7 linked regions of the Homo sapiens genome follow. The protein of the gene in region 2 purifies or fractionates together with the protein of the main gene of each other region. This does not show direct contact. Each region holds a gene or a part of one and is shown on either strand. Other genes may lie near its edges.

Evidence for each region.
Region 1: the proteins of CC2D1A (region 2) and RCN2 purify together in Homo sapiens (affinity purification with mass spectrometry, with the first as the bait; one large-scale study listed by BioGRID). This does not show direct contact.
Region 3: the proteins of CC2D1A (region 2) and PDK1 purify together in Homo sapiens (affinity purification with mass spectrometry, with the first as the bait; one large-scale study listed by BioGRID). This does not show direct contact.
Region 4: the proteins of CC2D1A (region 2) and CLUH purify together in Homo sapiens (affinity purification with mass spectrometry, with the first as the bait; one large-scale study listed by BioGRID). This does not show direct contact.
Region 5: the proteins of CC2D1A (region 2) and EXOC3 purify together in Homo sapiens (affinity purification with mass spectrometry, with the first as the bait; one large-scale study listed by BioGRID). This does not show direct contact.
Region 6: the proteins of CC2D1A (region 2) and PTGFRN purify together in Homo sapiens (affinity purification with mass spectrometry, with the first as the bait; one large-scale study listed by BioGRID). This does not show direct contact.
Region 7: the proteins of CC2D1A (region 2) and MYB purify together in Homo sapiens (co-immunoprecipitation; one large-scale study listed by IntAct). This does not show direct contact.

The regions. Positions count from the first base shown.
Region 1 is NC_000015.10:76,934,598-76,938,588, reverse strand, and holds part of RCN2 (reticulocalbin-2 isoform a precursor), read right to left. Parts: intron 3,064-3,991; coding exon 2,867-3,063; intron 1-2,866.
Region 2 is NC_000019.10:13,909,139-13,913,129, reverse strand, and holds part of CC2D1A (coiled-coil and C2 domain-containing protein 1A), read right to left. Parts: intron 3,308-3,991; coding exon 3,172-3,307; intron 808-3,171; coding exon 692-807; intron 603-691; coding exon 537-602; intron 1-536. UniProt on the Homo sapiens protein: Transcription factor that binds specifically to the DRE (dual repressor element) and represses HTR1A gene transcription in neuronal cells. The combination of calcium and ATP specifically inactivates the binding with FRE.
Region 3 is NC_000002.12:172,566,006-172,569,996, reverse strand, and holds part of PDK1 ([Pyruvate dehydrogenase (acetyl-transferring)] kinase isozyme 1, mitochondrial isoform 2 precursor), read right to left. Parts: intron 3,142-3,991; coding exon 3,064-3,141; intron 2,798-3,063; coding exon of another isoform or gene 2,781-2,797; exon of another isoform or gene 1,975-2,780; intron 1,257-1,974; coding exon 1,180-1,256; intron 1-1,179. UniProt on the Homo sapiens protein: Kinase that plays a key role in regulation of glucose and fatty acid metabolism and homeostasis via phosphorylation of the pyruvate dehydrogenase subunits PDHA1 and PDHA2.
Region 4 is NC_000017.11:2,694,617-2,698,607, forward strand, and holds part of CLUH (clustered mitochondria protein homolog), read right to left. Parts: intron 3,975-3,991; coding exon 3,280-3,974; intron 2,327-3,279; coding exon 2,103-2,326; intron 1,923-2,102; coding exon 1,818-1,922; intron 1,644-1,817; coding exon 1,543-1,643; intron 911-1,542; coding exon 758-910; intron 665-757; coding exon 602-664; intron 486-601; coding exon 241-485; intron 1-240. UniProt on the Homo sapiens protein: mRNA-binding protein involved in proper cytoplasmic distribution of mitochondria.
Region 5 is NC_000005.10:456,185-460,175, reverse strand, and holds part of EXOC3 (exocyst complex component 3), read right to left. Parts: intron 3,288-3,991; coding exon 3,170-3,287; intron 2,277-3,169; coding exon 2,151-2,276; intron 818-2,150; coding exon 717-817; intron 1-716. UniProt on the Homo sapiens protein: Component of the exocyst complex involved in the docking of exocytic vesicles with fusion sites on the plasma membrane.
Region 6 is NC_000001.11:116,954,507-116,958,497, reverse strand, and holds part of PTGFRN (prostaglandin F2 receptor negative regulator precursor), read right to left. Parts: intron 1-3,991. UniProt on the Homo sapiens protein: Inhibits the binding of prostaglandin F2-alpha (PGF2-alpha) to its specific FP receptor, by decreasing the receptor number rather than the affinity constant. Functional coupling with the prostaglandin F2-alpha receptor seems to occur.
Region 7 is NC_000006.12:135,197,924-135,201,914, reverse strand, and holds part of MYB (transcriptional activator Myb), read right to left. Parts: intron 3,008-3,991; coding exon 2,865-3,007; intron 2,390-2,864; exon of another isoform or gene 2,334-2,389; intron 1,831-2,333; coding exon 1,716-1,830; intron 1,626-1,715; coding exon 1,500-1,625; exon of another isoform or gene 1,358-1,499; intron 277-1,357; coding exon 166-276; intron 1-165. UniProt on the Homo sapiens protein: Transcriptional activator; DNA-binding protein that specifically recognize the sequence 5'-YAAC[GT]G-3'. Plays an important role in the control of proliferation and differentiation of hematopoietic progenitor cells.

The sequences.
Region 1 (3,991 bases), on a different chromosome or scaffold from region 2:
ACAGAGTTTCAGCTTTCCAAGATGAAAAGAGTTCTGGGGATTAGCTGCACAACACTGTGAATGTACTTAACACTACTGAATGGTACACTTTAAAATGGTTACAATAGTAAATTTGTTATGCACTCCTCCCTCCATATTTGTGAGAAATTGGTTCCAGAACCTCCCACAGATACCAAAACCCAAGGATACTCAATTCCCTGATATAAAGTGGCATAGCATTTGCATATAACCTACACATATCTTCCCAAATATTTTAAATCATTTCTAGATTACTTATAAGACAAATTACAATTTAAATGAGGAGTAAATCATTGTTACACTATATTGTTTAATACAATAAATTATGGCCACAACAAAAATTAAAAGGTATATACCAAAACAGGATAAGTTAAGAAACAGAAGAGCCTTGAATATTTTCCAAGCACCCTTGACTAATATTTTGGGACAGTTTGCAACAGCATGTTTGATTTTATTTTTATGTTTTTCTACACATAAAAACTATCTTAAAAAAATTCTTGGTGATCCTCTAATTACCCTGATTTGATCATTATAATATACGTTTGTGTGATATCAAAATATCACATGTACTCTGTAAGTATGTATAATACAACTATCATGTACCTATAAAAAAGATTTTAATTCTTTAAAATTAGCTTTGAAATACAAAAGTATTTGATATATCAATTTCTCAAGCTCACAGTCATTTCTGTTGATATACTTTTAGTTTAATAGACTTCCTAGAAGTGTTAAAAAGTTCCTAATTCCTAAATAAAATTAGTCTTTCTCAGCTCTGCTTAAGAAGCATATATTTCAACAAATTAAACCATGAGACACATTAGAACTCACACAGATACTAAATTTTCAAAAAATGAGTAATTTGGGGCCAGGTGTCGTGGCTTACACCTGTAATCCTAGCACTTTGGGAGGCTGAGGTGGGTAGATCACTTGACCTCAGGAGTTTGAGACTAGCCTGGGCAAGATGGTAAAACCCCATCTCTACAAAAAATACAAAAATTAGATGGGCGTGGTGGCTTGAGCCTGAAATCCCAGCTACTTCGGGGGCTGTGCTGGGAGGACTGCTTGAGCCCAGGAGGCAGTGAGCCGAGATTATACCACTGCACTTCAGCCTGGGCAACAGAGTGAGATACTGTCTCAAAAAATAAAAATAAAAAAAAAAAAGGAGTAATTTTAAAGGGTGTACTCACTATGAAAAATGGTACTGTGGTTTCTCAAAAAATTAAAAATAGAATTACCGTATGATCTAGCAGTATCACTTCCAGGTATATACCCAAACCAATGGAAAGCAGGATCCCACAGAGATTTGCAAATCCCAAATCCAAGATGCTTCAATGAGCATTTCTTTTGAGTGTCGTGTCAGTGCTCCAAAAGTTTCATATTTAAGAGCATTTTGATTTTGGAATTAGGGATACTCAACCTGTACATACAACAGAATATTACTTTGCCTTAAAAAGGAAGGAAATTCTGATGCATGCTACAAAATGGAAGAATCTTGAGGATTCTAAGTAAAAATAAGCCAGTTACAAAGACAAATACGGCGTATGATTCTACTTAGATGAGGTACCTAGAGTAGCCAAATTCAGAGACAGAAAGTAGAACAGTGGTTGCCAGGAGCTAGTGGGAGGAGGGAATGGGGAGTTATTGTTTAATGGGTAGAGAGTCTCCACTCTGTAAGATGAAAAGAGTCGGGGAGATTGGTTGCACAACACCATGAATGTACTTAATATTACTCAACTGTACACTTTAAAATGGTTACAATGGTCAATTTGTTACACAGTCCTCCCTCACACATTCCTGGGAAATTGGTTCCAAGACCTCCCTATCAAAATCTGAGAATGCTTAAGTCCCTGATATAAAATGGTGCAGTATTTGCACATAGCCTACACACATCTTCCTGAATACTTTAAATCACGGACCCTCAATCCCTAGGTCGCGGACGGGTATTGGTTCATGGCCTGTTAGGAACTGGGCCACATAGCAAGAGGTGAGTGGCAGGCATTACCGTCTGAGCTCTGCTCTGCCTCCTATCAGATCAGGGGTGGCATTAGATTTTCATAGGAGTGCAAACCCTACTGTGAACTGTACATGTGAGGGATCTTCGTTGCGCACTCCTTAGGAGAACCTAATGCCTGCTGATCTGAGGTGGAACAATTTCATCCTAAAACCATTCCCCACCCCCCCGCCACACACTGTCCCGTGGAAAAATTGTCTTCCATGAAACTGGTCCCTGGTGCCAAAAAGGTTGGGGACCTCTGCTTTAAATCATCTCTAGATTACTTATAATATAAATTACAACTTAAATGAGAAATAAATCATTGTTATACTATATTAAGGAATAATCAAGAGAAAAAAGTTCTGTATATGTTGAATAGAGACACAGTTTTTTTTTTTTTAATACTTACTTTTTTGGATACTTACGATTCTCAGTTGTTTGAATCCACAGATGTGGAAACCGCAGTTTTTTTAAGTGAGTATATAAAACTATGTGTTTAAAAATGGGAATGGGCCATAATGGCCTTCTTAATAAAGATAAAACTGATTATTCAATGATATTAAAATATTGAGATACTCATTCAAAACACATTTAAAAAGCAACTCTGGAAATGAGGACAATTAAATGATGCAGCCGAGAAAAACAGATAGAAGGATCATGTAGGTAATTTAGAATAAGAGTCCTAAATCTGGCCAGAAAGGAAACCATCAAAATGACTGCTGAAGTGGAACAGGTGATTTCCTAGAGAACAAGACAATCCAGCTTATGACCTCAGGCCCTCAATGTGCTCATTCATGCAGGAAGGTAAAGTGAACTGACATGATCAAAAGAAACAGCTTGTGCACATGAACTCACCTTCCTAAAGGACTCCTCTTCTGCATCATCCAGAGCAGTGTTCTCATCAAAGTCAATCACACGATCATACATCTGAATGTTATATTCATCCCAAGTCACAGTATCATCACTGTTTTTATCATATTCAACAAACTGTTGTTTTGCTTCTTGCATAGCATAATGCTTAAAAGACATCTGAATCCATGAACTGAGTTCACCTATGAGAATTTCCCAGAACACAACGCATGTGACGTTAATTCTGATACTTAAGAGTAAGGATTTCCAAACCTTCTCTGAAAAGGCAAAATCTTTGATGTTTGCAAATACTGAGAATTGGCCTAGTTGTATTAATAGAAATGGGGTAGGAAGTGGGAAAGGCTGTTTAGAAGAGCTCATGAAGCTTTTAATTATTTTTTTTTGAGATGGAGTCTCGCTCTTTCACCCATGCTGGAGTGTGCAGTGGTGCGATCTCAGCTCACTGCAACCTCTGCCTCCCGGTTCAAACGATTCTCCTGCCTCAGCCTCCTGAGTAGTTGGAACTACAGGCATGTGCCACCACACCCGGCTAATTTTTTGTATTTTTAGTAGAGACGGGGTTTCACCATGTTGGCCAGGCTGGTCTCTAACTCCTGACCTCGTGATCCACCTGCCTCGGCCTCCCAAACTGCTGGGATTACAGGCGTGAGCCACCATGCCTGGCCGGAGCTTCCATACTATAACATATGATCTAAATATAATGTAAGCTCCATAAAAGTTTGGGTATGTTCTGTTCACTGATGTACATCAAATGCCTGGAAAGTTCCTGGCTCTGTAAGTATTTGTTGAATGAATTACCAACTGGCCAAAATAGCACTTTACTTTTAAAAAAAATGTTATCCAAAATCTTGCAGAAAACCTTTGCTAACTACCACAGATCTCTCAGGAAGCATAAATATTTTGATAGCTATTTATTTTAGTATGTATGAGAAAAAACAGTGTTTTTTATTTATGAAGGTGACATAAAGTCTTCCTTTAAAATAAATTTTATGTGAGTTGAATTAAAACTATAGTAAGAAAATAATAGATGGTTAAGTAGATATGGCCTAAATTCTGAAAAGGTATTCAAGTGACTGAGAATACTGCTTCAGTATATTACCTTTAAATATG
Region 2 (3,991 bases):
ACTTGGGATGCCCCTGTTAGCCCCTTCTGCAGTAACAGTCGGCCCCATGTCATCCCTGGACCAGCCTCCCCTGCCCCAGTGAGGCAGAAATCATGGTCCCCATTTCCCAGTGGAGGGAATGGGGTTTCAGAAGCATCATGTCACCCACCTGATATGGGTCACATGGCTGTGAAGGATAAGGGTGGGCCAGGCGCGGTGGCTCACGCCTGTAATCCCAACACTTTGGGAGGCCAAGGCAGGTGGATCACTTGAGGTCAGGACCAGCCTGGCCAACACAGAGAAACACCATCTCTACCAAAAAATACAAAAATTAGCCAGGCGTGGTGGCACACACCTGTAATCCCAGCTACTGGGGAGGCTGAGGTGGGAGGATCCCTTGAACCTGGGAGGCAGAGGTTGTAGTGAGCTGAGATGGCACCACTGCACTCCAGCCTGGGTGACACAGCAAGACTCCATCTCATAAAAAAGGCTAGGTCTTGAACCCCGGGCTGTCCGTTGGGTTGTGGTTCAAGGGAGTGGAGTCATCCAAACTGTACCTGGGCCACAGGAGGTGGGGTCTCTGAAGCCTTCTGCTCCTCTCCAAGGACCTCATTTAGCTCCGCCTGCAGGGACACACAGCCAGGGCAGGATATAAGGGCCTGCTGGATGGGGGCAACCGGATCAGAGCCCCCACCCCGCCCTCAGTGCTCACCAGCAGGTCATCATCAGCCTCCAAGTCGTCCTCATCCGTCCCCTCCTCCTCATCCTCATCCGGGTCTCTCATGCACAGGCTGGCCATCTTCTCAATGGCCTCCATCGGCAAGGGACCTGGCGGTAGGGGGATGCCCCAGGTGGACCAGGGTCGTACACCAAGAGCCCCCATTTCCCATCCTGGACACGCTAGGTGATCCCACTTCTCGCTGACTTCCCCATTTCATCTCTTCCTTATTCAGCCTCAGGTCTGGGGCCTGGCTACCTGAATTCAAAACCCAGCTCTGCAGACCGGGCACAGTGACTCACGCCTATAATCCCAGCACTTTGGGAGGCCGAGGCAGAAGGATCACTTGAAGTCAGGCGTTCAAGACCAGCCTGGCCAACATGGTGAAACCCTGTCTCTACTAAAAATACAAAAATTAGGCTGGGCGCAGTGGCTCACGCCTGTAACCCCAGCACTTTGGGAGGCCGAGGCGGGTGGATCACAAGGTCAGGAGATCGAGACCATCCTGGCTAACACGGTGAAACCCCGTCTCTACTACAAATACAAAAAATTAGCCAGGCATGCTGGCGGGCGCCTGTGGTCCCAGCTACTCGGGAGCCTGAGGCAGGGGAATGGCGTGAACCTAGGAGGCGGAGCTTGCGGTGAGCCAAGATCGCGCCACTGTACTCCAGCCTGGGCGACAGAGCGAGACTCCGTCTCAAAAAAAAAAAAAAAAAAAAAAAAAAATTAGCTGGGCATGGTGGCGTGTAATCCCCGCTGCTAAAGAGGCTGAGGCAGGAGAATCACTTAAGCCCAGGAGGCAGAGGTCGCAGTGAGCTGAGATTGCGCCACTGCACTGCAGCCTGGGCAACAGAGCAAGGGTTTGTCTCCAAAAAAAAAAAAAAAAACACACACACACAACAACAACAAAAAAAACCCCAGCTCTGCAACTTTCTCTCTGTGAGAACTTCGGCAAGTGATGTCACCTCTCTGAGCCTCAGTTTCTCCCTCTGTGACACGGGGATGACAACAGTTCCTCCTTCATAGGTAGGTTGGAGCAGAGAAGGTCAATGAAGCTCTTAGAATAGCATATTGCCAATATCTTGTTATTAGTTATGTTACATTCTATAAAGCTGCTTTGAAGACTAAATTAATGACTATAAGACTGTTGCTCCTAGGGGAAATTTAAGCTTAGGTTCCTGTGAATCTCCAGTCATAACCTTTTTTGGAGACAGGATCTTGCTCTGTCACCCAGGCTGGAGTGCAGTGGCCCAATCAGAGCTCACTGCAGCCTCAAACTCTTGGCCTCAAGTGATCTTCCTGCCTCAGCCTCCCGAGTAGCTGGGATTACAGGCATGCACCACCACACCCAGCTCTGGTCACAAAATTTTAATCAACTGATCAATACACAACCTTGCTCTATGTGTGTTTCTGTTTGAAGACACCTTCCTGAATAGATATCGTTCATTCATTAACTTTGAATTCACAGCCAACAGCACAGTAGTTCATGCCTGAATGAAGCTTCTCTCTTTTTTGTTTTTTGGAAACAGGATCTTGCTCTGTCACCCAGGCTGGAGTGCAGTGGCGCAATCTCTGCCCACTGCAACTGCTGCCTCCTGGATTCAAGCGATTCTCATGCCTCAGCCTCCCAAGTAGCTGGGATTACAGGTGTTCGCCACCAAGCTTGGCTAATTTTTGTATTTTTAGTAAAGACAGGGTTTCACCATGTTGGCCAGGCTGGTCTCGAACTCCTGGCCCCAAGTGATCTGTCCACCTTGGCCTCCCAGAGTGCTGGGATTACATGCATGAGCCAATGTGCCTGGCTGACATGAGCTTATTGTGTGTGAGGGGGCCCTGGGTGAAATACTTATGGACTCCAGATTAACTCCTATAACATGGTTATTATTCCAGTTTTACAGATGGTGAAACTGAGGCCAAAGCACATGATGTGACTCATCAAGTCACATAACCAGTAAGTGGCAGAGCTCGGATTCCAACTCTCAGTCTCGGTCCAGACTTGATCTTTTTTTTTTTTTTTTTTTTTTTGAGACGGAGTCTTGCTCTGTCGCCCAGGCTGTAGCGCAGTGGTGCGATCTCGGCTCACTGCAAGCTCCGCCTCCCTGGTTCACGCCATTCTTCTGCCTCAGCCTCCTGAGTAGCTGGGACTACAGGCGCCCGCCACCACGCCCGGCTAATTTTTTTTTTTTTTTTGTATTTTTAGTAGAGACAGAGTTTCACCGTGTTAGCCGGGATGGTCTCAATCTCCTGACCTCATGATCTGCCTGCCTCGGCCTCCCAAAGTGCTGGGATTACAGGCGTGAGCCACCGTGCCCGGCCTCAGAGTCGATCTTGACTCTCTTACCCAGATCATTGGCTCCAGGAGAACAGGGGTCTTCTCTGTCTTCTTTCCCCTACCTACCCAGTGCCCCCAGTTCTGCGCCCGAACCACTTGCAGGAGATCAGAAAATGTTCTGAGGGTGTGTTAACCATCTCACCTTTGCCTTTGAGCTTCTCCAGGGCTGGGGGCTGGCCCCCGACCAAAGCCAAGAACTCAGCCTCCAGTTCTTCATCGTTAGCCCCGTCCTCAGGGATCATCAGGCCATCTGGGGAGAGGTCAACCAGCAGGCCCAGCTAGGGGAACAGCAAGGGTTCAGTCAGACCTTTGGTTCACCACATGGCTAGAGGCAGCCATGATGGCCAGAGAGTCCCCTTGGGAGGAAGGAAACAAGGTCTCCCAGGGAAAGCCATTTCCCTGGGGAGTGCCAGGAGGCTGGAACAAGCCCAGAACAGGTGTTCCAAGATAGGCCAGGCCCTCTGGCACAGTTCAACCTGGGGCAAAGGGCAAGAGACCCAGCTCTCTGATCTGAATCCACACTTATGATGTGCTGCTGGGCCAAGTTCAGTGGGAAAAGCAGGCCCCTGGCTGGGCGCAGTGGCTCACGCCTGTCATCCCAGCACTTTGGGAGGCCAAGGCAAGAGGATGGCTTGTGTCTGGGAGTTCCAGACCAGCCTGGGCAATACAGTGAGACCCCCAACTCTACAAAAAAAAAAAAAGTTTTTTGTTTTTTGTTTTTTTTTGACACAGAGTCTCGCTCTGTCACCCAGGCTGGAGTGCAGTGGTGCAGTCTCAGCTCACTGCAACCTCCGCCTCCGGGGTTCATGCCATTCTCCTGCCTCAACATCCCGAGTAGCTGGGACTACAGGCGCCCGCCACCACGCCCGGCTAATTTTTTTTTTGTATTTTTAGCAGAGACGGGGTTTCACCTTGTTAGCCAGGATGGTCTCGATCTCCTGACCTCATGATCTGCCCGCCTC
Region 3 (3,991 bases), on a different chromosome or scaffold from region 2:
TGAAAGCCATTATTACTGACATTATGTACAATATAATACGGAGTGCCTCAATCATAGGGCACAAGATCTTTATGCCACTGGAATTTCAAGGAAAAAATTCGTGTTAATGCTTGAAGTGCCCATCACTACTTGTTTAACTACTTGGATAAAAAGATTTTAGGGCTAGGTGCAGTGGTTTATGCCTGTAATCCCAACACTCTGGGGCAGGACTGCTTGAGGCCAGGAGTTCAAGGACAGCCTGGGTAACAGAGTGAGACCTCAACTCTACAAAAAATAAAATAAATATTTTAAAAAAGATTTTGTAAGGTATTAAATACATTTTTGCTGTCTTGGAAGAAAGAACATTCTGCTGCTGTTCTAAGATATTCGGTCAGTTTTTCTGTGTTTCAGTGCACTTTTCCTTTACATTATCAGATTGAAAGCCACCCCCTCTTTCCTCTAGTTTGCTGCTGGCTGATGAAACACAACTGAAGAGAGACTACAAGCTTCTGATAGAGGGCAATCATTTTCACCCACCAGGACCTGTGCCCCTCACTCCTCACCCATTTTCTTGTCAACCAGCAAGTATTATTGGCGGGGAAAAAAGATACTCTCAATATTAGTAGCATAATTTGTTTTCAAATTTTGTTGTAAAGAGCAAAGATTACAGCAGAAACCCTGTAAGTCAATATAAATGACCTCCCCCTCCCAAGAAAAGCCAGACCAAAAAAAGAATTCTGGTCCTTTGAGGGTAGCAAGTTGAGAATCACTCTTCTAAATATTGTTTTATAAAAACATAAAGATAACTCTATTGAGCACCTATATGTAATACGTTGCCACTGTACTGGACACTTAGTATGTTATTCCCAATAGTCATAAACAATCCTGGACAGTATTCTTGTTTTACAGAAAAGGAAACTGAGGCTCAGAGAGGTTGAGTGACTTGCCCAAGGTCACACACATATTAAGAGCCATAATTGGGATTCAAACCCAGGTCTTTCTGACTCCATAGTCTGAGCTCACCACTACATGGAGATGTCTCCCTGTGTTGATAAAAAGCTGATCTCCAGCAATGTGATATGATACTGATGTGAAATGGCACTTCTTAATAGGAGAACCTAGTGGAATATTTGGCTTTCAGAGCAGATTCCTAACCTCAGAAAAGTACTGGTAAAGGTTATGTAATACTATTTTACAAACCTTGAAAAGTTCAAACACCATGTGATAGAGATGGGATGGTACATAAACCACTTGTATTGGCTGTCCTGGTGATTTTGCTACAGAGCAGAAGAGAAAAATATGAAAGTACAGAGAGATGTGCTTAAAGCATTTTTAAGAATAAACTGTGTAGTGATGAAAAGAAAACATTAACTACGGAGGACAGTATTACCTGGGGGAGAACTGCCACACCATTTCTTCAATGTATTAGTGTTTGAACCCATACCCACAAATATTTACAACTGATGATGACAAGAGTCCTGTGGTCACTTCTCACAATCTTGCATCACAATCGAACCAACCCATGCGCCCATTTTTCTCTAGGATGGTAAAGTCTTTTTTAAGATCGCTTAACTTTCGGGTAGGAATTTTACTTTCCAAATAGAGAAGTGTTAAAATCTTTAAATTCCACAGTCCAATTCACATGCATGCATACATTCTTCTTCTTCTTTTTTTTTTTTTTTTTTTTTTTGAGACGGAGTCTTGCTCTGTTGCCCAGACTGGAGTGCAGTGGCGCGATCTTGGCTCACTGCAACCTCCACTTCCCAGGTTCAAGCAATTCTCCTGCCTCAGCCTCCCGAGTAGCTGGGATTACAGGCGCCAACCACCACGCCTGGCTGATTTTTCTTTTAGTAGAGACGGGTTTCACCATATTGGCCAGGCTTGTCTCGAACTCCTGACCTTGTGAGCCACCCGCCTCGGCCTCCCAAAGTGCTGGGATTATAGATGTGAGCCACTGCGCCCAGCCCATACATTCTTTAAGCCATTTTCAAAATGTTTCACCTGGGTGGAATATTGTTTTATTTCAGGCATTTCGATGGATATAAAGCTGAATAAAAAATATGAGCTAGCATCAATTTCTCGAGACAGTAATTAATTCTACATTTAAACACTTAATAGGAGCCCCACTGGGGGTGGTGATAGGGGTGTGTATAAAACAGACATTTAGTAGAACAAATGATTAAGACTCATGATATCTTAGAATTCTAATTCAACCAATAAATCAGACCTTCCTCTGAATAAACTCCCCCTTGGGAACAAAAATGGGACATCTGGAAATTGCTCACAGCAGTTCAGGTTTGCAAACTATCACTTACTTGTACACTGTGATTGTTATTTACCAAATGCTATGCTACCATCATGGCTCAAAAGAGTTAATATGGCTTTAGAAAATCACCAAGCAATGCTATTTTCAATTGCATAACTTCACTGCTCTCTCACTCTAAGGTCCAGAATACAGCTTAGTAAAAGCCTATTTTGTTTTATTCTTCCCACACCTTCTTAAAGTGTCATCTTAGGAAATGCTTTTTTCTGTCAAACTACCATGCTTTCAGGAAAAAGAGACTCATCAATCCCTCTTCAAGGCATCTAAACCCTTTTTGTCCAAAAGGCACTAATCAGGGTAAAAAGAAAACCATCAGAGACAAACAGATTCTCAAATAGATGAGCATCTTTCTTTCCTCTTTTATAACCCCAGTCTATGTCCTCAACAACAGAAAATTATTTACAACTCAGGAAGTAGAAAAAGGGTAAGTCTTACATTAGTGAAGTGCATGTAAAAGTCAAATGTAACTTTCTTGGTATCATTTTCTTTCTATGACTAAACAGAAAATAAAAAATAAGCAAAGAATCAAAGTTATCAATTAAAAATAAAGAAAATGTGATACAAAAAGCCAAATCTTTTCATAAAGAATCTGACTAAATTACATATGTTTATAGATATATTTTTTACATGATTACTATCCTTTAGCCTTCATATCCAACGAAGTTGATAAAAAGTCATCTTCCATTAAAACATTTAAATTCTTATCCCTTATCAAGTAATCAAAGCACTAATTATTGAGAAAAAGACAACATCAGGCTTACCATTTAGTTCTTCAAGTTCTAGTTCGGGAGAGTTAATATAATACAAATCACACAGACGCCTAGCATTTTCATAGCCATCTAGTGTGAATCAAAACAAAACAAAAAAGGATTTAATAAATATACTTCTCTTTCACGCATTAAGATGGCAATGGTATTGACAAATCAAAGTCTTGAACTCTCTACAGAAGAAAATATACTTTGATAGTTTGGTGAAAGTCTGCTTTTTTTTTTTTTTTTTTTGGTAGAGACATGGTCTCCCTATATTGCTCAGGTTTGTCTCCAACTCCCAGGCTCAAGCCATCCTCCTGCCTTGGTGCTAGGATTACAGGCATGAACCACTGCCCCCAACCAGGGAAAGCCTTTCCTTTTTTTTTTTCCTTTGAGACGGAGTCTCGATCAACCAGGCTGGAGTGCAGTGGCGCTATCTCGGCTCACTGCAGCCTCCACCTCCCTGGTTCAAGCGATTCTCCTGCCTCAGCCTCCCAAGTAGCTGGGACTACGTAGGCATGGGTCACCACGCCCAGCTAATTTTTGTATTTTCAGTACAGAGGGGGTTTCACCATGTTGGCCAGGCTGGTCTCGAACTCCTGACCTCAGGTGATCCACCCGCTTCAGCCTTCCAAAGTGCTGGGATTATAGGCATGAGCCACTGTGCCTGGCCCAGGGAAAGTCTAAGTGTGACATGACAAAGCTGAATAGCCATAAACAATGAATGACAAATATAACTACAAAAAAAATGTAAAAGTCTATATGCTAAAAAGACACCAACAATGTAAAAAAGAAAAATAACAGGCTGGAGAAAATAATTGCTATCTATGTAACAAAACTTAAGAGTTGGTTAGGAAACACTCTTATCCATTGTTTGAAACCTTTTTGGAGATACCAAAATTTTATATGCATTTAAATGTTTTTAATTCTAGGAATCTCA
Region 4 (3,991 bases), on a different chromosome or scaffold from region 2:
ACACCGCCCCACCCAGCTCCCCAACGCTGTCCAGCCCGGGCCCCCAACACTGCCCCACCCGGCCCCCGGGAGCCTCCCGGCTGCCCTCACCCTCCAGCACCCAGTGATCTCCACAGCTGCTCCCTCTTCTCTCTGACTCCCTGGCCTATGACCACAGGCCTTAGACGCCATCTGGGAGCAGGTGGTGGCCGCCTCATCTGCCCAATCCCACCCACCCCACCGCCCCTGCCCCGCACGCACCACTCGAGGTCGAAGTCAAAGTAGTTCTTGGCCTCCTGGCAGATGTTCTTCCAGAGCTCCTGGGGGGTCATGACAGCCCAGGCTGTGTTATCTGCAGCCCCCGGGGGCCGGTTTTTCCTCCTCTTATTCCGCTTCTTGGAGACCAGCTCGTCGGCGGGCAGGTGGGCCACGGGGTTTGGGTAGGAGCTCAGGAAGCAGTTCAGGAAGTGGCTGATGGCGGCTGAGAGGCCGGAGAGCTCGACTCCCTGCGAGGCAGGTTGGATCCGAGTCATGAGGGCCCTCAGCCCCACCTCAGGCTCTTTCCCGACGCCCCACACCACCCTGGGAGGCCATGGCCAGCCGCAGAGCGGACGGGTGGCACCTGTAAGTACGTCTTGAAGATGTGCTTGGCCGAGCGGGTGATGAGTTCTCCAATGCCGATTTTCTGGAAGGATTCAGAAGGGAGGTCTTGGTCAGGCCCCCGGCCTCCATCCCAGTCCCACAGCTCCCGTTCCGCCCCACCCCGGGCAGCACTCACAAAGACGTGGTCCAGCTGGTGGCGGGCCGGGCTCCGCAGCACCAGCTCCAGCACCTTGCCCAGGTAGCGCATGTTGATGCCCCGCTGGCGCATCACCTCTGCCAGCGTTGCCCCGTCCACGGGCAGGACCGCGTGCTCCATGCAGTCCTTCACCTGCGGGCTGCAGCAGCTCAGGCCCCCACCCAGCTCCTCTGCCTCCACCCAACTGAGTCCTTCTGGGGGAGCACAGCTATCCTGGGAGGCCCTGGAGAAGGACCCCGAAGGCTCCAGCTCCCAGTCAGGATGTCAGAATGTGCCCAGCCTCTGGCAGGAGCGCAGGCCAAGAACCAAGAGCCCGGTGGTGGTACAGGCCCCCTCTAACCATGTGGGAGAAGCAGAGGTGCCCGCTTGGGGGCACTACTTGACCCCCAGCCCCGTGTCCTGAGGCTTGGAGGCCACGGTGTTGGGGGAGCACCCAGCATCCTGGAACCAGACACAGAGCCTGCGGGAGGAGGAGGAGGATGGGCAGCCCCCACTGAGCTCTGGCCCCGTCCCCCAGCCATGCCACCATCCAGGGCTCAGAAGACTGGATTACCAGCTGCCAGCCCACACGGTGGGCTCAGCAGGGCCTGTGCCCTTGACCTCTGGGGGTCAGGCTCCCCATCTGTCAAACGGGGATGCCCACTCAGGGAAAGCTGAAAAAGTCACTCCTGCGAGCCTGTGTTCATGGGCCTCCAAGTCGGAGACAGATGAGGGACCAGCACCCTCCACACAAGCCCCACCCAGCCCCGCAGCCCCTCCCTCACCAAGCCAGGGATCTGGCAGGAGAGCAGGAAGGCAGCCGCGTCCTTCAGCAGCTGCTTCTGGTCCCGAACTTCATCCTGGCAGGACTCAGGGAAACGAACCCCTGGAGGAGGGAGAGCAGAGAGGCTGAGCCAGGCAGTGGCAAGACAAATGCCGCCTGGCGCTGGCGGGGGAAGCGCTCAGATGGGGGACAAACCCACCAGCCCCAAGGGCCCAGGCCCCCCAGCGAAGCTCTGGCCCTGGAGGGCTCCTGCGCTGGCCGGCCCCCACCACCTGCCTGGTGAGAAGATGTCAGGATTGAAGCGAATGTCGAAGGCGGTGCTGCTGATGGAGCCGACCGCCTTGCACGCGTTGCGGATCACCTCCCGGCTCCGAGGGTCTGCTGTGGAGACATGGCTCCATGAGACACGGGTCCCCTCTGCCACCGGTGGAGCTGGGCTGCGCCAAGCCTCGCCCCCTAGCTCCTTGCAGAGATGTCTGCCAGCCTCTCCCAGGTGGGGGTCATAAGCCACCCTGGCAGGGCCAGCCCGGGCTCTCTCCCGGCCATCTGCAGCAGCCCCACCTGTGCCGTCGTCTGCGGCGATGGTCTCTGCCAGCTCCTTCACCTTGGCCAGGCCGCTGGCGCTGCTACCCTCCTCCTCACTTCCCGCCTCCTGTCCTGGAGGATCCTCAGACTTGGACTCCAAGGAGGAAGGACCACCATTTTCCAGGGAGGAGGGGGTCTCCAGCTGGCTGGCGTTCTGCTGCATCAGCTGCAAGGCGGCCAGCTTCATAAAGAGGAGGTACCTGGAGCAGAGGAAACAGGGCAGAGCAGGAGCTGGACATCGGGGAGAGGAGCTCTGCTGGCCCACGGCTCCCGGCAGCTGGGGCTCCACACCCCGCAGGCATAGGGCACCTCCTGGCCGGTGTGCATGAGTCAACGCAGAAAAACCAAGATCTCCCAAGACAGGAAGAAAAAGGCGGCCGGGCGTGGTGGCTCACGCCTGTAATCCCAGCACTTTGAGGACGAGGCAGGCAGATCACTTGAGGTTGGGAGTTCGAGACCAGCCTGACCACCATGGAGAAACCCCGTCTCTACTAAAAATACAAAAAATTAGCTGGGCGTGGTGGTGCACGCCTGTAATACCAGCTATTCGGGAGGCTCAGACAGGAGAATCACTTGAACCCGGGAGGCAGAGGTTGCGGTGAGCCGGGATCGTGCCATTGCACTCCAGCCTAGGCGACAAGAGTGAAACTCCGTCTCAGAAAAAAAAAAAAAAAGGCAGCTGCGTTCTGGAGGGTATGGGAAAAGAGGAGCTCCCCATCCAGGTCAGGGCTCTCAACAGTGACAGGAAGCCACTGGCATTTGAGAGTTACTCATGCTGTGGGACCTCTGACATGGCCATTTCCCCATTTCCTAAGCACTAAACACCAGCGGCGGGGACCCCCGGTGCCCCACCTGCCCGCCCCAGCACGGGGACAGTCACAGCCACCCAGACTTCCAAGTGCTCCTTAAGAGAACAGTGTCCGCCACAGCCACATTACCCGCCTGGCTGCTCGCGAGTCTGCAGCCCGGGTTTCTGCGCTCGGGAGCCTGACAGCAGGGCAGGTGGGGACGGGTCTCCAATGACTGTGGCTAGACGGAGCCCTTCTTCACTCTCCAGCGCTTCTCCCTTCAAGGACCCAACCCCGGATCCACCCAGGGCGCCCGCACTCCCTGCAGCTGGCCCCGGCCCTGGTCCGGCAGGGCCGCCCCTCACCTGTGCTCCACGAAGGCGTCCACCAGCTCCTGGCGCAGGCAGCAGAGCTTGTGCCGGTGGGCGCGGGGGAAGCCGGCGCGGGCGCATTCCTCAGGCAGCTCCTCGCCAGGCACGGGCAGGAAGTTGAGGTCCGGGGGGAAGGTGCGCAGCAGGTCGAGGATGTAGTGGCGCCCGTCGTTGCCAATGATGCCCTTGCACTCGACCGAGGAGCAGAGCTCCACCTCCTCGTCACGGTCGTTGAGCACCTGGTGCCGCAGGATCTTGAGGGGCCGACTCGTGCGCTCCAGCAGCTCCAGGTACCGCGGGTGTGACACCACGGTCTTGCCGAAGTCGATGGAGCCGTAGATGACGCTCTGCTCCTGGTCCCGCTCCAGGATGCCGGGGATGATGGACTGGGCCGTGACCCGGTAGCCGCGGTAATCCACCACCACCGTGCCCAGCGTGTACAGCCCCTCCACGTCCACCGCGTTGTACGTGCGGACGCCATTCAGGTCGTTGGTGGGCGCCACGTAGGCCGCCACGTCCCCCCCGAAGTCCTTGTAGTGGTCTCGGACGTCGAAGCCCAGGCTGAAGAAGATGTTGTTCCAGATGAACATCTGCATCTTGGTCTCCTCGCTGGGGTTGATGGCCATCACGTTGCCGTCAATGACGGCCATGGCGCCCCTGGTGGCTGCCGCGGTGAAGTCGCTGTGCACCTGGCGGGGGTCGAGGA
Region 5 (3,991 bases), on a different chromosome or scaffold from region 2:
AGATACAACCCAAACGCAGACTTGGCATCGGATGACCCCACGGAGTCACCGTGCATGTGTCTCTGACTTGATGGCACTGCAGTGGCTTCAGAGAGGGTCGCAAATACCATGCCACAGCGCCCGGGGTTTGCCTGAAGGTACTTCAGCAGAGAGAGTGGAATGGGCAGGGGAGAACAGATTAGGCAAGGGGGCTTTGGAGGGGATGGCTTCTGGACTGCACGATGGGTGAACACAGTTTTTTAAACTCTTTTCCACATCTGTATAGGTTTGAAAATTATCAACAACTCATGGGGAGGGTGGCGTGCCAGGTCATGGCTGCCTGGAGCCCTTCTGAGGAGGGCCGGCTCAGCCGAGGACGCCCTCCCCACTACGAAGTAGGCACTGCGGCAGGAGTCGCCACCCCCACCCCAAGGAAGTTCAGAACAGGCAACAGGAGGAGCCTGACTCCAACAGAGTTGGTGTCATCCGGCGCATCGCTAAGGACGTCACAACACATCAGCTCTGGGAGCCCAAGGGGGTGTGTGGTCCACTCAAGGGGAAGATGATCCAGAAGCTCCGCTCCCTCCCTTTGCTTTTGAAGAACACAGGAGTGACACGTGGGGAATCTACCGGCTTAATTTCTTCTTAGTAACAGGCATAGTAGGATCAAAAAATTTTTGCTTCTAATTTTTAAAAACATTCAATGTGTACATTAGCACACTGGCAGAAAGACATACCTGCTTAGGAAAGAATTCATCTGCTGAAGACATAAAACTAGTACCTTTGTTTTCAAATCTTCACTTATCTGAGCAGCAACTTGAAGATTCTGTTCAAACATCTAAAAATCAGAGAACTTATGAATTCTGGTATAATCTTACAGGAGTATACTAAGAGTGCAGGTTTGCTGTTATATGAAACCTCCATCTGCTAACTGGCATTTAGGATAGTCCAAATTCAGAGAAAAAAAAAATGAAACCACGTGAAAAATAACAAAGTTAGTTTAAAAAAAAAAAAAACAACTTTCTCACCTGGGAAAGTACCAAGTGACTCATTTCTTAATTCCTGGCAAACTGGTTTCTCCCACGGGGGCCATGTCTGTCCTCACACTACGTGACTGGAGTTTTAATGTGTGGAGTGAGGCCCCACCCGGGATGGCGCCCCTCAGGCACCTGACTCACCCTCCCTGGCCCCATGACTGTCATGATGCAGAGTTCCTAAGAATCTGGACCTGGGGTGTGCCAGGCCCTGCCAGGAGCTGACCCAGGCAGAGGAAGGGCAAGGGGACAGAGCTCTCCTCACAGTTTCTCACGGCATCTGTTTCCAAACAAAGGAAAGGGTTTGGACTAGCCTGTCAATAACTAACGGTATCATTCAGAGAGAAATGTCACCCGCCAGCCCTCACTCCTGCCTAACTAGAGTCCTGAGTGAGGATTCTAACACAACGGGGCTCCATCCCTCAGCAATGCCACTCAAATTAAAACACATGATGTGCCAAAAGAAAAAAAGAGCAGGAAAAACGGGACACAGGGCGGTCGGACACTGGAAAGTGAATCCGTGGTAAGAACACACCGGTTCTAACACCTAGTGAGGCTTGGGCGTTGGAAAGTGAATCCGTGGTAAAAATGCAGGTCGGTCTAATACTTAGAACCTTAACCAATGAACAGGAAAGCAACTTTAAAAGCTAATGGACGCCTTGACCCAGGAGGTAGAGATTGCAGTAAGCCAAGATTGTGCTACCGCACTCCAGCCTGGGCAACAGAGTGAGACTCCGTCTCAAAAAAAATAATGGACGCTCCCAAAATCCACCTGTTTAAACTCAATCATGTGCCATTTTTTAGGACAAATCCTGGATATCGACCAAACAAACTCACATTTGAAAGTCGCACATAAATAACATACAATTAGGCTGTAGTCCAAACCCATAAAGACCAGGTCAGAAAAGTAAAGTGACCTTGGGCAAAACTATTTGGTAAGTATCATCCCAGGTTTCTGCAGCTCCAGAGAGTAAGAGACAGAGAGAGGAGAGGACTTAGATGCACCAGGCAGGGCTCTCAATATTTTTACTACACTCTGTGGATGAAGATCCCAGGTATCTGTGTCACTTTGTAAAACCTACAGGTCCCACTATCCACCTAGGAAACGGAACTGTGCCAGTCCCCTGCAGGTGGTACCTGGAAGACAATGGCAGGGAGTGTGGTCTGGTAGTACCCGTCCTGGTCGGCTTCTGGCTCTGTCTCTTTGACCCAGTCTTTCTTGTCTGTCTCCAGCGCTTTCCGCAGCCAGGCGATGATGTTTGACTAAAGAAAGTTCAGCATCATGGAGAAGAGAAGAGAGAAGAGCAGGTGCCTGAGGGTCATGCCAATTACCTGGTCAGTTGCATGCACAAGCTCCACAAACCAGACACAGGGCACCAGCGTCCTCTTTCTCAAATGAGGACTCCAGAGCAGGGACCCAGGAGCCACCCCCATGGGAGGCAGTGACCACAGCAGCCCGCAGGGGTTTAACTGGAACCCTTGGTACAGATAAAGAGGGAGAAGAAACTAGATGCCCTTTTGGCTGCACCTCATGCTGGAGGACAAGGCCGCTGAATCCCAGGTGCACAGAGAATGAGGCCGACCAGGTCCGGTCAGGCCTGTTCCCATGCCCAGACTCAGCAACCACAGCAGCTCACGTCCCAAGAGAAGACAGCGCTCCTTCCCCAGCTCCTGAGGACACCTCGGCTTCTGGTCATAATGCTGCCTTGCTAGGTGGACGCACCCTTGTCTAAGAAGCAGACCCTGCTGACCTCCTCTTCTCACTCTGAGACCACCTGGTGGTCACCAGGCTGCAAATGGACTCGCCCTTTGGTCCTTGACGGACCCCCCCAACCATGGGACTCAGAGCCGAGAGCCTGGCAGGTGCTGCCACACACGGTTCAGACGTTCTGGGCCCTGGCCAGCCTGCCGAGTAGGGCACAGGCTCACGTCTCCAGCAGAGGACAAGCTTCAGATCCAGGCCCAGAGAAGGGGCCATTCTCCTCTTCTAGCAAACTGACCTGTCAAGGCCTGGAAGCAGAGCCCGGGCAACTGAGCAATGCATCCTAGGAAGTCAACGCTAAGGCATTTCCCCCCTGCCTCCTGCCTGCTGCCAAGCCCTAGTTACTCATATAACCAGCACGGTGGTCTGTGGCACGCAGGCCAGCCCTACTCACAGTGAGCGTGGACATGTACGTGTCAAGCAGCTCAGAGACCACGTGTGGAGAAAGCAATGGCTCCAGGGTGCCGACATCCACTTCCGGGGCCAGCTCCACGTTCCTCATCATCTCAGTACTATGGGGGAACCAGGAATGTGAGTGACAAACCACGACAGACACAGAAGAGCATGCCCAAGTGTGCCGAGACTGTTTCACTTGACACATGAATGTCCACCACCCTGGAGACTTCCTGGTCACAGCCGGCCCACAGCTCAGGGGAAAGTGCAGGGCAGGGGCCGAGGGCTTTGGGGTCTCTGTGGCATCACCCCACTGGCTCCCAGACTGCGTGAGTCCCTCCAACCGGGGAAAGTGCAGGGCAGGGGCCGAGGGCTTTGGGGTCTCTGTGGCATCACCCACTGGCTCCGAGACCACTTGAGTCCCTCCAACCCCAGCTTCACCCTGCTGCGCCAGCTTCATGAGGTGCTGGGGCTCAAATGTGGAAGAGCCTTTCCTGTGGGGAAGACGTGTGTTCTATTCACTGCACCTGCAGAGCCGAGGCAGGGCCTGGCAAACAGGAGGCGCTGAATAAACAAACGTACTCAGTCAAAACGACAAGCACAGCCGCCCCCACAGCCACGGGCGCCACGTCCACTGACTCAACCAAACACAAACTGAAAGTATTTGGGAAAAACAACAATAAAAAATAATAAAAATTTCAAAAAATATAGAACAACTATTTCCATAGCATTCACATTGTATTTAGTCTTATAAGTAATCTAGAAATGATTTAGAGCATGAAGGAGAATGTACGCAGGTTACGTGCAAACACTATACCCTTTT
Region 6 (3,991 bases), on a different chromosome or scaffold from region 2:
GTTAGTGACTTGGCCACACAGTTCAAAAGTGGCAGATGGGAACGGAGCCCTGTCTTCTACCACCTTTCAAGTGCATCCTTAGCTCACAGATGAACCAAACCTACTGTCTTCTAAACTTCATATTTTCTAAGTTCCACTGACTGACACATGATTTTTAGGAACGCTGAGTGCAGTGCTGCCATGACACTAAGTTACTGCCACAGGGAATGTGACCCAGAAGACAGCTCCCTGCAGGCCCTCGCCTCAGCCTGACTGACCAGTGTGATCCAAAACACCATGAAGTTGCCTGTGGGGACTCCTCTTCTGTCTCCTCACAGGTGACAGACCCTTTGATCCTTAATGGTTTACTTCCACCCCCGTGCAGATTCTTTCAGAGTGGCACCTTTTCAAAGGCTGTCAAAATTATGATGAAAGATGGTAGATGTTCATTGCAGCATTATTCACAAGGGCCAAGATATGGAATCAACCCGTGTCCATCAACAGATGAATGGATTAAAAAAATATGGTATATATACACAATAGACTACTATTCAGCCATAAAAAAAAAAGAACAAAATCCTGCCATTTGCGACAACACAGATGAACCTGGAGGACAGTGTTAAGTGAAATAAGCCAGGCACAGAAAGACAAATACCACATAATGTCACTCGCATGTGGGAGGTCAAAAAGCTGAGCTCATAGAAACAGAGAGTAAAGTGGTGATTACCAGAGGCTGGGGGATGGAGAGGGGAGAATGCTAGGCAAAGGACGCAAAATTTCAGTTAGACTGGAGGAATAAGTTCCAGAAATCTATTGTACAACATTGTGACTATAGTTAATAACCATGTATTGTATACTTGGAAACTGCTAAGAGAACAGATCTTCGACATTCTCAGCACAAAAAATTATAGGTATGTGAGGTAATGGATATGTTAATTAGCTTGATTTAGCCATTCAACAATGTATACATATTTCAAAACACCATGTGGTACACCATAAACATATATAATTTTAATCTGTCAATTAAAAAAACATGTTGGAGTGACTTGACTGACCTATTAGTGGTCAGATCACAGAACACACAGAAAAGGTGGTCAAAACTAGCTCCTGTGCCAATCACCTGGGCAGCTCTCTCTCTCCTCCCACTCCCTGGCCTGCTCACACCCCAAAGCTCACTCCCCCAGACATGAAAACCCAGCTCTTCCTTAGCCTCCAGACCCAAACACTGGCCTGAGCTGAGGTCTGGGCATTCTAACTGAGCATCCATGGCGTCTTTACTACAGCACGCTCACAACCGAATTCACCTCACTCCACATCTGCCTCTGCAAACACACAAACACAAACACACACACACACACACACACACAGCGAGCCAGCGAGAGAGAGAGAGAAAGAGAGAGAGAGAGAGAGAGAGTTAAAACCTTGTTCCAAACACAGCCAGCCCCACCTCCAAACTTTTCAACCACTCCTGCTACCACATTCCCGCCACTCATTCTCAAGGTCACTCAGTGTCAAAGGTGTGCCATCTTCAACGCTCTCCCTTCCCTTCCACCTCTCCACTCTGAGGGTTCCTAAGTCTCGCACATTCTACCTCCTCAGTGTCTCTTCCATTTCTTTGTTCTCAGGCCTGATGCAGAGTAGACACTTTATGAATATTTGCAAATAGAAGTGAAAACCTCATGAAGAACACCTTCACCCTGGCCCTCACTCCCTCTAGCCAAGACTATAATAACAACCTCCCATTGCCACTTGACATGACTGACATGACTGCTTGGGCATCTGCTCCATAAACCTCCCATGGCTTCTTCCCTCACCTACTGAGTTAAGAAAATGCTCCCCAGCCTGGCATTCGAGGCCCTCCACTGCGTGCACCCAGCCGCAGCACCCACTGCCTTCTCAACTCCACTCAGATGGCACCTCTCACCATTCCCTAGCTACTCCTATGCTCCGCCTTCCTTCCTGCTGCTCTGTCTGCCTCAGCACCTGGGCCACCTGCTCGATAAGTAGTTTAAATAATGACTGAAGAGATTCTTTCATTCTACTCCATTCTCCACCCTGAAATCAATCTGTTTGAATCCTACATACCCAAACACAGCGGAATGAGAGTACGGGGGACTTGCACAATGTGTGCATCTAGCTATAGGAATTCCAGCTTGGAAGGAAAGAAAAATCTCTTCATTGACCTCAACAGTTGGTCTCTTCATTTTCTCTTAAAACTAACCTTAGGCCTCAGAAAAGGAGGCCTCAGTTTTAATGCAAAGGCAAACAAAAATAAGTGGATTCTTGGCTTGTGAACTTACGAGGGGCAGGTTCATTTGAGCTATCCACCAGCCTTGTAGCTCAACTTTAGACTTACACTCCTGGAGAAGATATGATTCCACCATGTCAGAATGGTAGGAGTAGGAGCAGGTTCTGATTTCGTTTTTGTTTTGGTGCATGGACAGAGATTGTCCTTTAACATTGTTTTACAATTTTAAAAATGGTTTGCAGAGATTGTGCCCTTCTTCAAGGCCTGTCATGCACATACCTCTTCTGTGTATCCTCTCCTACTCAACGGAGAATGCCTCCTTTGAACTCACATGTCACACTCCTATTTCGTATTCAACAAATCCCACCACCTGCCAAGCTCCCTGCTCTCTAAGGGTTTTATGTGAATCCTGCCTTGAACTTTGGTTATTCGTATGTATGTCTTATGGGCTTTCCACAGGACTCTTCCCAGGGCCAGGGACTGCCACCTTGATTCTCTGTACGTGCTGTGCATGCAGTGCCTTGTACATAAAAAATACTAACATACTGGCTGAATTGAACTAAATTTAATATTTTGCATTAAAATGCTCATTTTGGGCACAGGCATTTCACCACTGATTACTGCTACATTCTGCTTGATCTCATCAAGAAATCAGCTAAGAATGCAATGGTGGTTATGTTTAAAAACTGCTTATCATTAAAGATGCATACTAAAGTGTTTAACAGTAAAATGACATGATGTCTGGGATATACTTTATACTCTTCTAGAAGAAAAAAGTGTGTGTTTTTGTGTGTGTGTGTCTGTGTGTGTCTGGTGTCTGGAATAGGGAAGAGAGATAAAATAAGATCAGCAAAATATTGATTATTGTTGAAGTTGGTGGTTATTTCTTCAACTGTGAATATTTGTAAATTTCTATTTTTAAAAGTTAAAAACAAACAACAACACACACTGTAAGCCCTCTCACAGAATACTGAGGCCAGTCCAAGTGCAGCATCACTAACGTTCTGAGAAGCAGGGATCTGCTCCCTAATCTGGATGCCAGGAAGGTGTCTGCTCATGTCCACACCATCTCCCAAGCTATGCACAGACTCCAAAAGAGTGACCCTCCCCTAAAGAAAGGCTTTAAAAATAATGGCTCATTAGACTCCTTTGTCACAACTTTCAAAACAATAAAAAGCCTTCAGAATCACTGGCTAATTTGTAAAAACAAGTATTGTGGGCCTACTATGTGCAGGAGACTGATCTAGAGATTTTCATACAAAATACCTCCTTTTACTCTCATGACAATTTTGTAAGGAAGGTATTATTATCCCCATTTTACAATAATAATGCTAAACAACGAGCATTTATCAAGGGCTTTCCATATGCCAGGCACCACACTATATACTTTCCTTGCATTTTCAATTAATCTCCATAACAACCTTGTAAGATTGGTACTATTTTCATGTACATTTCCAAATGAAAAACAAACAAAAAGCAAAAGTTAGAGGAGCTAAGTTAGAAGACTAAGGCCTTGCAGAGTGTGTGAGAGCAGAATTATAGGACAGGCTTTGGCTCCGTGGCCTGGCTCCTACTATGATCAAATTGTGCAACCTCCTTACACACCAAGGTTATTAATCTTTCTCAAAGCCTGCTACGTCCCGGAAGACAAGAGTGATGACAACAGCTGAAGCACTAATCCTGAACTGTGTACAATAGGACCATGTTCTAATACCCCCTCTGAAACTTAGTTAACTTGGCACAGCTAATTACATGAATGGCTGC
Region 7 (3,991 bases), on a different chromosome or scaffold from region 2:
TCTACATTAATAATCATTTTTTAAAAATCATGTGCAGGAGAACATTTAGAAATAAGATGTGTTAAAGAGGGAGTGCTGAAACCGCAGCAGCCCTATGCCACACACAGGATTTCATGAGGCACCAGTGTCACATAACAACTTGGGGGCTGGTGCACACGTACTTACCGGTGCATCTGCCACAGGCGAGGTCTGCGTGAACAGTTGGGTATTCAGACTGTCCCCTTCCCAGTGGTGTGAGCAGAAGAAGTTTCCTGATTTATCAGTTGGAGATTCCACCTAAAAGCATATAGAAAGTGCTTTGTTGTTTCTAGAACTTCCTATGAAACATGTACAGTCAGGAGTATATTTCTGGCCAGTCCCTCAAATACTTTTATAAAACTATGTTGCTAACTTACACTATCAGCTCAATTTGCTCTATCTTCTGGATTCAACAAAGAAACACTGATGGCAAATTTGAAATGTGACTAGCTCCAAATTTACTGCCCCTGTAAAGCTCCTACGTTTTCAACCAATGTTCTGATTCTAGGTGTTTATTCTATTAAGAATATATTTTAATGATACACCTAGTAGTGTTGTATCCGTCAAGGATTTTATTTTGGTGACATAAAAGATCTTTTGGTGACAAAAGACTGGTTTTTAATCACATTCTGGTAAAATTCTCCATTACTAAATAATCAAATCAGATTTTTAGCTATAAAAAAAAATACTTATCTTTACATGAAAATAAATTCAAGAAGCACTGTATCTAACCTGGTGGAAAACAGCTGTTGCCAACAAGCTAAAACTTTGATCCTTGCAGGTTAGATTCTCTTTTTTAATTTTAATTTTTATTTTTTTTGAGACGGAGTCTTGCTGTCTCCCAGGCTGGAGTGCAGTGGTACGATCTTGGCTCACTGCAAGATCTGCCTCCCGGGTTCACACCATAATCCTGCTTCAGACTCCTGAGTAGCTGGGACTACAGGCGCCCGCCACCAAACCCAGCTAATTTTTTTGTATTTTTAGTGGATACGGGGTTTCACCATGTTAGCCAGGATGATCTCGAACTCCTGACCTTGTGATCTGCCCACCTCAGCCTCCCAAAGTGCTGGGATTACAGGTATGAGCCACCGCGCCCAGCCTCCCTTTTTTTAATACAATTAATTAAAGATACTATTATTTTAATTTAAATTCCAATTCTTCACATCTAAAAATGAAATATCAACTTTATATAATCAGTAATGTTTAAAAGTACATTAAAAACCTCTTTCCCTCCCTTTTCTTGATACTCTCTAGTATGTTTTCTGTCCAAACATGAAGTAGATAGAGATGGCTTGGCTTCCCAAAGGAAAGGTTGATGATGCCTACAGTCTGGCAGTACCTTTTCGCTGCACCTTGTATGAAAATCTTGCACGAAAAGTCGTGGTGTTGCACAGTGCCAATGGCAGACACATCAAGCTGCACACAAGGAATAAAGGGGGCAGGATTCTCAGCTTGTTGCTTCCAAAGGGTTGCGTGTTTACCTCTTGTTTGATTTTCTTCAGTAAGGGTGGTCCATTTTCTTGAAACTCAGCAACAATTCCAGATTCATCAGATTCCTGTTTGATCACATCCTGCAGATCTTCTACTAGATGAGAGGGTGTCTGAGGCTAAACGGAAGAGTGGGTATTTTTGCATCAGAGAGAACTCCTAATGGGACTAATAAACCAATGAAATCCAAAAACTTTTCTAGAACTTACTAGCATCTTCAGGGGACCGTATTTAATTTCTTGAGCTGCAAGTGCATGTTTGAATGGTGTAGGAGTTCTTGGAGAGCTTTCTAAGATTGACCTTTTGATAGCTGGGGTTCTAAAACTTTAAAAAGAAAACAAGCAGTGGCTCAATACAAAAGAATAAATGTCCCTACATGGCTTTACCTGTTACATTTAACATTTTTCCACTGAATACAATAAACTCTGTTCCGGATATGGAATTGGGGTGTGCTGATTAATCACGTTATTCGTTAAGAAAAAGAGAATATGCATATCACATATTTTCAAATATTTCAAAATATTATACCTCGAAGACTAAAAGCATTAAATGATTTAACATCTTTCCTTAATGGCTCTGAAGACACATGTAGTGCCTATGATCTGTATAAGACTATGAGCATCAAGAAGACCTGATGTCATTTACAAATCAGGTTTCCCTATTCATGAAAACAGAGCCCATACTACAAAACATGTTAAACTTTTAAAATTTACTTTTTGTACTTCGAAATAACAGTGCATTTCTTTTCAAGGTTTCTGATAATTCACACTTTCTCTACCATTTCTCTGAATTGATTAAGGCTTTATTGAATAAAAATGACTGCTTACTCATCCCTTGGCTTCTAATCATATAATATTCCTGGGGATGTCAGAAGAGGTCCTATCTACACATAAATTCAAAAAGAAAAAATAAGATTAAAAAATACAAACTAAAAATAAATAAATAATAAACAAATAAAATTAAATAAAAATACAAACTAGGTAAGAAACCATACTCGTTCTTATTCTGAAGCTTACAATTAGAGAGGAAAGGAGGTTGAAAATCTGGCTTTCATAAGAAGGCCTTATGGAGGGAACAAACAAACCGAATGGAAAAGTTTTATGAAAACTACTTGTGCATATATAGGAAATTTTGGAGTAAGTTACAAAAGGAATCTAGTTTATCTTCCCATCTTCTACCTGTAGGTAGTTGTAATATGCCCAGGACAGATATATTCAATGTGGGAATAGACATGATTATATATAAATGGTCAGTAAAATTATGCACATACAAGTGGATCAGACATCTGGGAACTATATTCCATTAATTAAATATAAGTAAATAAGATAAATCATTTTATTCCTGAACCAAAGACTTACACAGTATTTTCCTTTTGAGTTTTCACAGTCTGGTCTCTATGAAATGGTGTTGTAACAGTCAATTTGTGACCAATGAGGGGGGTGGAAGTTAAAGAAGGCATTTCCAAGTCTGAGTTTTCATGGTTACTGGAAGTGTTTAAGAACTAAATATGGAGAGAAAGAAAAAATACTTAGATTAGATGGTAATTCTTTATTCTCCCCAATTTAAAAATCACACCTAGATAACAAGAATGTTTTCCTGACCCACTATATTAAATAATAAAGATGCTAACAAGCATGTTATATTGACTAGGGTATTGTTTTATTTCAATTGAGCACCCAGGATTTGGGTGTGGTTTCCAAGAAATAAAATTTAGGGTCATTGCTGAAAAACTTGCAAAACTGTGAGAAAATACTCTCAATAAATGACACTTGTCATTAAAGAGAATGAGATGTGTTCTTTATTAACATTTAAAAGGCTTTAGTGATTTTGGGGAAAATAATAGTTAATAATTAATAGTTTCCTTTCATACTTTGTTTTTTCTCTTTAATAATCTATGAACCAAAATTAGTATTACAGAAGGTTTACATTATATGGAAAATTCTTGAATAATAAACTGTGTCTCTCAGAACACTAAAGTTCTGGGAAAAAACTAGGTGTTCCTTAAACAATTCCAAGGTAAAATAAATTTGGGAAACACAACATATCATAATCTCCTCCTGGAAATTCACAAGGCACAACGGCATATTAATAACTCTGAGAAGGCCTGCAGTTAAAAAAAAGAAAGTTTTTAAAGAAATGGGATCTCGCTATGTTCACCAGGCTGAACTTGAACTCCTGTGCTTAAGCAATCCTCTTGCCTTAGCTTCCCCAGTAGCTAGGACTACAGGCCCATGCCACTATGCCCAGCTAAGAAACCTACTTGTAACTTTGTTTGATTCAGTGTTTCCCAAATGTATATACCTATATCATACCTAAATCTGTTCTTAAAACAAATTCAACAGATACAATTGGAAAAATGTTTTAAAGTGCCAAATTATCTATTAATTTAATTATTTAAATAATTTAGGAACACAAATCTCTGATAAGAATTGTGATTTTCATGCCTTAAAAAAGCTGTATGAAATAAAAATATTCCTTGGCAAAA